2 linked regions of the Homo sapiens genome follow. Changing the gene in region 1 together with any one later gene gives a genetic interaction. Each region holds a gene or a part of one and is shown on either strand. Other genes may lie near its edges. The genes, in order: YJU2 and FBXW7.

Region 1 (3,082 bases):
AGAAGGTGGTAAAAGTAGGGGCTCATAAACCAATAACACAGACACACAGAAACGATTGTTCTCGGCCGGGCGCGGTGGCTCACACCTGTAATCCCAGCACTTTGGGAGGCCAAGGCGGGTGGATCACGAGGTCAGGAGATCGAGATCATCCTATCTAACACGGTGAAACCCCATCTCTGCTAAAAATACAAAAAATTAGCCGGGCGTGGTGGCGGGCGCCTGTAGTCCCAGCTACTCAGGAGGCTGAGACAGGAGAATGGCGTGAACCCAGGAGGTGGAGCTTGCAGTGAGCCGAGATTGTGCCACTGCACTCCAGCCTGGGCGACAGAGCGAGACTCTGTCTCAAAAAAAAAAAAAAAAAAAAAAAAAGAAACGATTGTTCTTTCTTCCTTTTTTGTTTGTTTGTTTGACACAGGGTCTTACTCTGTTGCCCAGGCTGGAGTGCAGTAATGCAGTCCCAGCTCACTGCAGCCTGAACCTCCTAGGCTCAAGCAATCCTCCCACCTCAGTCTCCTGAGCAGCTGGGACCACAGGCACGCACCACCACGCCTGGCTAATTTTTCTTTTCTTTCTTTCTTTTTTTTTTTTTAGACAGTTTCACTCTTGTTGCCCAGGCTGGAGTGCAGTGGTGTGATCTTGGCTCACTGCAACCTTCGCCCCCCGGGTTCAAGCGATTCTACTGCCTCAGCCTCCCAAGTAGCTGGGATTACAGGCGCCTGCCACCATGCCCGGCTAATTTTTGTATTTTTAGTAGAGATGGCGTTTCACCATGTTGGCCAGGCTGATCTAGAACTCCTGACCTCAGGTGATTCACCTGACTCGGCCGCCCAAAGTGCTGGGATTACAGGCGTGAGCCACTGTGCCTGGCCCCTAATTTTTCAAATTCTTTTTGCAGAGATGCGGTCTTGCTGTGTTGCCCAGGCTGGTCTCACGCACCTGGCCTCAAGCAGTTCTCCCGCCAAGGCACAGGGATTACAGACATCAGCCACCATGTCTGGCCCCAAGACATTTTTCTAAAAGACATTTTCTTTGAAGCTGTGTCCTCTGATTAGAGTTCTCACACTGTGGTTCTCACATAAACCACTCCCAGAATTCATTGTCTACAACTTCCTCTCTTCTTTTCTTTTTTTTTTGAATGAATCAACAGAGTAAAGGTACTTTGAAAGCAGTCCAACCTTTTTTGATTTACTCCCTCAGTCTTGTGCCTCTACCTGATTTGATAGCAGGTGTTTTATTTGGTTTTAACGTGATTCACCTTCATCAAGACTTTTCAAACCTTCACCCTAACTTTTATAGGAAGGAATATCTCCACACTTGCGTTTTCTTGGTTTATTTTATTTTTATTTTAGAGATGAGGTCTTGCTCTGTCACCCAGGCTGGAGTGCAGTGACGCGATCACAGCTCGCTGCAGCCTCCAACTCCTGGGCTCAAATGATCCTCCCACCTCAGCCTCTCAAGTAGCTGGGACCCACAAGTGTGTAGTGTGTGCCACCACAGCCAGCTAATTTTTAATTTTCTTTTCTTTTTTTTTTTTTAGAGGCGAGTCTGTATGTTGTCTAGGCTGGTCTCAAACTCCTATCCTCAAGCAGTCCTCCCGCCTTGGCCTCCCAATCCTTAGTTTAGTTTAATGATGATGAGTACCACCTGTAGAAACAGGTTTGGGAACTAACCTAGGTAACTTTTTTTTTTTTGAGACGGTCTTGTTCTTTCGCCCAGGCTGGAGTGCAGTGGCACGGTCTCGGCTCACTGCAACCTCCGGCTCCCAGCCTGTAGCAATTGTCCTGCCTTAGCCTCCTGAGTAGCTGGGATTACAGGCGTGTGCTACCACACCTGGCTAGGTTTTGTATTTTCTTTTTATTAATAAAGAGACGGGGTTTCACCATGTTGACCAGGCTGGTCTCGAACTCTTGACCTCAAGTGGTCCACCCGCCTCGGCCTCCCAAAGTGTTGGGATTACAGGTGTGTGCCTCTGTGCCTGGCCATCTGTGCCTTTTGACTTCTTTTCCTCATTTTGACATCAGCCCAGAGCTACGACATTTTTTTTTTTTTTTTTCGAGACGGCGTCTCGCCCTGTCACCCAGGCTGGAGTGCAGTGGCACGATCTCGGCTCACTGCAACCTCTGCCTCCCAGGTTCAAGCGATTCTCCTGCCTCAGTCTCCCGAGTAGCTGGGATTACAGGCGTGTGCCACCAAGCCTGGCTAATTTCTTGTATTTATAGTAGAGACGGGCTTTCACCGTGTTAGCCAGGATGGTCTCTATCTGACCTCGTGATCCACCTGCCTTGGCCTCCCAAAGTGCCGGGATTAGAAGCATGAGCCACTGCGCCCGGCCCAGAGCCACAACTTTAAGGAGGCCTCTCCACCACCTTAGCAGTGGCCGCCCCTCACACCGTCAGCTTGGCACTCAAGGTCTCTGCCCATTCTCCATCCCACCTAGCCTGCCCTGGCACTTCCTGAATCACACTGTGGCTTCTCATCACGCCTTTACCCATGCCATTCCCCTTACCTGGGATGCCCCCTTTGCCAAGCACTCGCTTGGTGAACTCCTACTCGCCCTTCAATACCCAATGCAAGACGCCCTTCCTCTGAGAAGCTCATCCTCACAATTCAAGCTCACGCACCCTGGCTTCTCTCTCACCCAGATGGATGTTATCCTGGGTATTGGTCTCCTTGTCCCTCTCCCTCCCCACACGGTGAGCTCCGTGAGGGCAGAGCACCCATTGGGACTTCCTTAACCCAGTGGTTACCACTTCCTCTATTTAAACATAAAACAGATTGAAGAGGCTAGATGCAGTGGCTCACGCCTGTCATCCCAGCTCTTTGGGACGCTGAGACGGGAGGATCGCTTGAGCCAGGAGTTTGAGACCAGCCTGGGCAACATAGCGAGATCCCGTCTCTACAAAAATTAAAAATGTTAGCCTGCCATGGTGGCGTGCACCTGCAGGAGGCTGAGGCAGGAGAATCGCTTGAGCCCAGGAGTTCGAGGCTGCAGTGAGCTATGATTGCACCACTGCACTCCAGCCTGGGCAATAGAGTGAGACCTTCCCCCCAAAAAAATTTTTTTAATAATATAGATTAAAGG
Region 2 (3,828 bases), on another chromosome or scaffold:
GGGTGATGCTCTGCCTTCTTGTTGCAGCTCTCATACCATGAACAAGTGTCATTTTCATGGTCCATGAGGAAAAAGCATTTTCCTCATTTTGGTGCTTTTTGTTAGTGATTGTGCAGTTTAGAATGGCCCCCAAACATAGCCTGAAGTTCTGTTTAATGTTCCGAAGTGCAGGAAGGCTGTAATTTGCCTTAAAGATAAACTAATGTGTGTTAAAGAAACTTAATTCAGGCATTAGTTATAATGCTGTTGACCATGAGTTCGATGCTAATGAATCAATGTATATTAAAGATATATTTAGGCAGAAACACGCATAAAAAAGGTTATGCATTGATCAGTTGGCAACAGTGTTGTGACCAGAGGCTTGTGAGAACTGTATTTCCCCTAGGAGCAATGGCTCAGTATTTGTTAATTCAGTGGTTGCAGCAATTTTATAGAACACAATTACTGTGAATGGGAATCAACTGTATTTGATTAACGGTGGTGATTTATAGGGACTTTAGATACCAGAAATGTTTCATAATTCCCTTTCTCTGAAATCACTGTTTTAATATGTTTAAATGCATGCATGCAGAGTTGTGATGTTAAACATAATTTTACTGTGGGTTCTGGTCAAAAAAGATGAAATGTCATTGGTTAACTTGAAAGAGACATTATTCTAAACATTATCCTCCAGAAAATTGACATGTACAGGAAGCATATTGAATGCTCAGCAAATAATTTGTTTTAGAGTAATAATCTTTGAGTATTGTAGTGATTCGAGTTTTGGAAAAGAAGGCAGTATCAGTGTTAGAGAATAATATTCTTTCAGGATTTTATGTAGTTACTTTAAGGTGCATGAAAGGAGACTCAGTTGGGTGTTAAATTCTTGTCCCTGCTTTACTTGAAACTAGTAATCTTGAGAAATTTACTAAATCATTTTGAGCCTTGATTACCTTGCCTGCAAAGTGAGGAACATTTTCAATTTAAAATTCTATTTCTTTTATTAGTATTCTTCCTGACCTTGAATCATTTCTATTCCCATCATGTCCAGTTGCCAAGAAAACCATGCAACTTAATGTTGTTTGTTAGCCATCAGATTTTATTTTACTGAACTCAAGTTCAGTCACATCAGTTACCGATAAAATAATAAGTTCTATATTAATATTTGATATATCTTGACATTTTGTATTATGGTAGGAAGAAATAAAAGACCTTCCTCAAATTTTAGGATATGGGCTTCTGTTTGTTGATGTTTGTGTTTTATGATACACTGTTGTAAATCATACTAAAGGTTTTCTCTGAAAAAGACTAGAATTGACAATACTTCATTTGTTAGCAGTTTCAAGTTTTAGATCACGGGTGCATAATTTCTTGTGTGTGCACAACATGTTGGCATTTTATCTGACTTCAAAGATGTCCATATAGATACCAGCAAAGGATAAAATGTAAGAATGAATATCATGAAAAGATGCTGTATCAGATAAAATTCTAGAGCCTAGGTTAAAAAACATAAAGGCAAACATGCTTGATATATAAAAATTGAGAAATATGATAAAAAGAAGTAAGTTTAAAGCATCAGTAATACCACTGCCTAAGATGCAGTTTATTTTGAAATGTTGTCTTCTAGTCTTCATACAGTTTAAAAATCATACTATAATCACAATTTCCAGCATTTTCCCCTTAGCATAATATATTATAACATCCATGTTTTTAAAAATATTTTATGAACGTCATGTTTAGGGATTACACCATATATATCCCATCTCATAGATTCCTTTATATTGAACATTTGGATTTTTATTTACATTTTTATTTACATTTATTTTTATCTTTATTTTTTGCTTTCGTGGATAAACTGCAGTGAGCATCCTCTGTATAAATTTTTTTTTTCTGTTTTAGGATTACTTCCTTAGGATAGATTGCCAGAAGTGGAGTTACTGGGTCAGAGGGTATGAACTTATGAACTTTTTTTTTAAATAAATTTTTTGTTCATTTTCTGTCCAGTCATTTGTAAAAAAATTAAAATAATAATGATTATAATTGTTACCTGCTAGAAAACTGTGTCTGAAGGCAAGATTCTGTGATCAGAAAAGTTTGGGAAATACCCAGGGTAAAAAGCCTTTTAATCTGATTTACCTCAGCATTTCCCAAATTAACTGAACACTGAAAATTTTTTTTGATACACTTCTTAAAATTTTGTGGAAGTTTTATATAGGATATAGTCTATGAACTACTGATGTAAAATTAAAATTGTTTTATTTGCTTGAAATATTATGTTTTATTGGTCAAAGGAATTAAACTATAAATCTTCATGCTAAAAATTATTAAAAGGGATTAGTGTTGTTTACTATGGTTTTTGTGCATGTCTTTATAAAGTCTTATAACTTTTAAAATTGAAATGTTCTATATTGTTTACTAAAGAACATTTTAATGCCTTGGTGGCATCAATACTTTTTTGCAATCATTAATGATATTTAGAAAGTAGACATATAACATGAAAGTAGAACATAATATAGATTGTACAAATCTTGTTTTTTACCCTATTTTCCCCTGCAGAATGTGAAAACCTTTGCATCTTCTGATAGTCTAGCCAAGGTCCAAGAAGTAGCAAGCTGGCTTTTGGAAATGAATCAGGAACTGCTCTCTGTGGGCAGCAAAAGACGACGAACTGGAGGCTCTCTGAGAGGTAACCCTTCCTCAAGCCAGGTAGATGAAGAACAGATGAATCGTGTGGTAGAGGAGGAACAGCAACAGCAACTCAGACAACAAGAGGAGGAGCACACTGCAAGGAATGGTGAAGTTGTTGGAGTAGAACCTAGACCTGGAGGCCAAAATGATTCCCAGCAAGGACAGTTGGAAGAAAACAATAATAGATTTATTTCGGTAGATGAGGACTCCTCAGGAAACCAAGAAGAACAAGAGGAAGATGAAGAACATGCTGGTGAACAAGATGAGGAGGATGAGGAGGAGGAGGAGATGGACCAGGAGAGTGACGATTTTGATCAGTCTGATGATAGTAGCAGAGAAGATGAACATACACATACTAACAGTGTCACGAACTCCAGTAGTATTGTGGACCTGCCCGTTCACCAACTCTCCTCCCCATTCTATACAAAAACAACAAAAGTGAGTATATTCAATATATTGTTAACCTGAGAAACTTTACATATCTATTTTAATTGTAATGAAACTTTCCTCACAGTCTTTGTATTACTAAAAATTAATCTTAAGATGTGTAATAATAAAATGAACTAGTTTTTTGTCTTACAGAAGGTAATGGAAAGTATTACAAGTAGAAATACTGATAATGGGACAATCTGAGTACAAATGGAGGGAAAGTAATTGAGCCTATTACTATGAAAAATTATTAACATCAAATTTTCGTCTAAACCTTGCGTCCCGGGCAGGGATTAGTAGCTTGTGTGGGGTGTAGAGGTTTCGGGTGAAACATGATTTGTGTAAATCAAGTAATGAAGAAACTTTTTATTTACAAAATGCAGCTGCTAGAGTGGGCTATTCACAAGTGTCACTCTAAGGCATAAATTACTCAGAAGTTGCCTCAAATTAGTTCTAGTTATTTATCATTTGAGAATTAGAAATAATGAATATTCATGTAGAGTAGACTTACAAGTTAAACTATGTTTTGGAAAGGAACATTTTAACTTGAATATACTTGTTTTATAGACATTAACATAATGTCTGTGGTAGTTCATCCTCTTACTCCTACTTGCTTATTTCTTACATTTTACAGTGATTTTAGGCCATAAACAATATACAAACTGATTTAACATCGTATCGTTTAACCTAACTTGACTTGGAATGAAGTATCTTACACACTTGGATTAATAA

The links.
Region 2: changes in YJU2 (region 1) and FBXW7 together harm fitness more than expected from each alone (negative genetic interaction), as found in Homo sapiens cells (one large-scale study listed by BioGRID).

The regions. Positions count from the first base shown.
Region 1 is NC_000019.10:4,263,918-4,266,999, forward strand, and holds part of YJU2 (splicing factor YJU2), read left to right. Parts: intron 1-3,082.
Region 2 is NC_000004.12:152,410,580-152,414,407, reverse strand, and holds part of FBXW7 (F-box/WD repeat-containing protein 7), read left to right. Parts: intron 1-1,878; 5' UTR 1,879-1,928; intron 1,929-2,535; 5' UTR 2,536-2,604; coding exon 2,605-3,105; coding exon of another isoform or gene 3,106-3,135; exon of another isoform or gene 3,136-3,248; intron 3,249-3,828. UniProt on the Homo sapiens protein: Substrate recognition component of a SCF (SKP1-CUL1-F-box protein) E3 ubiquitin-protein ligase complex which mediates the ubiquitination and subsequent proteasomal degradation of target proteins.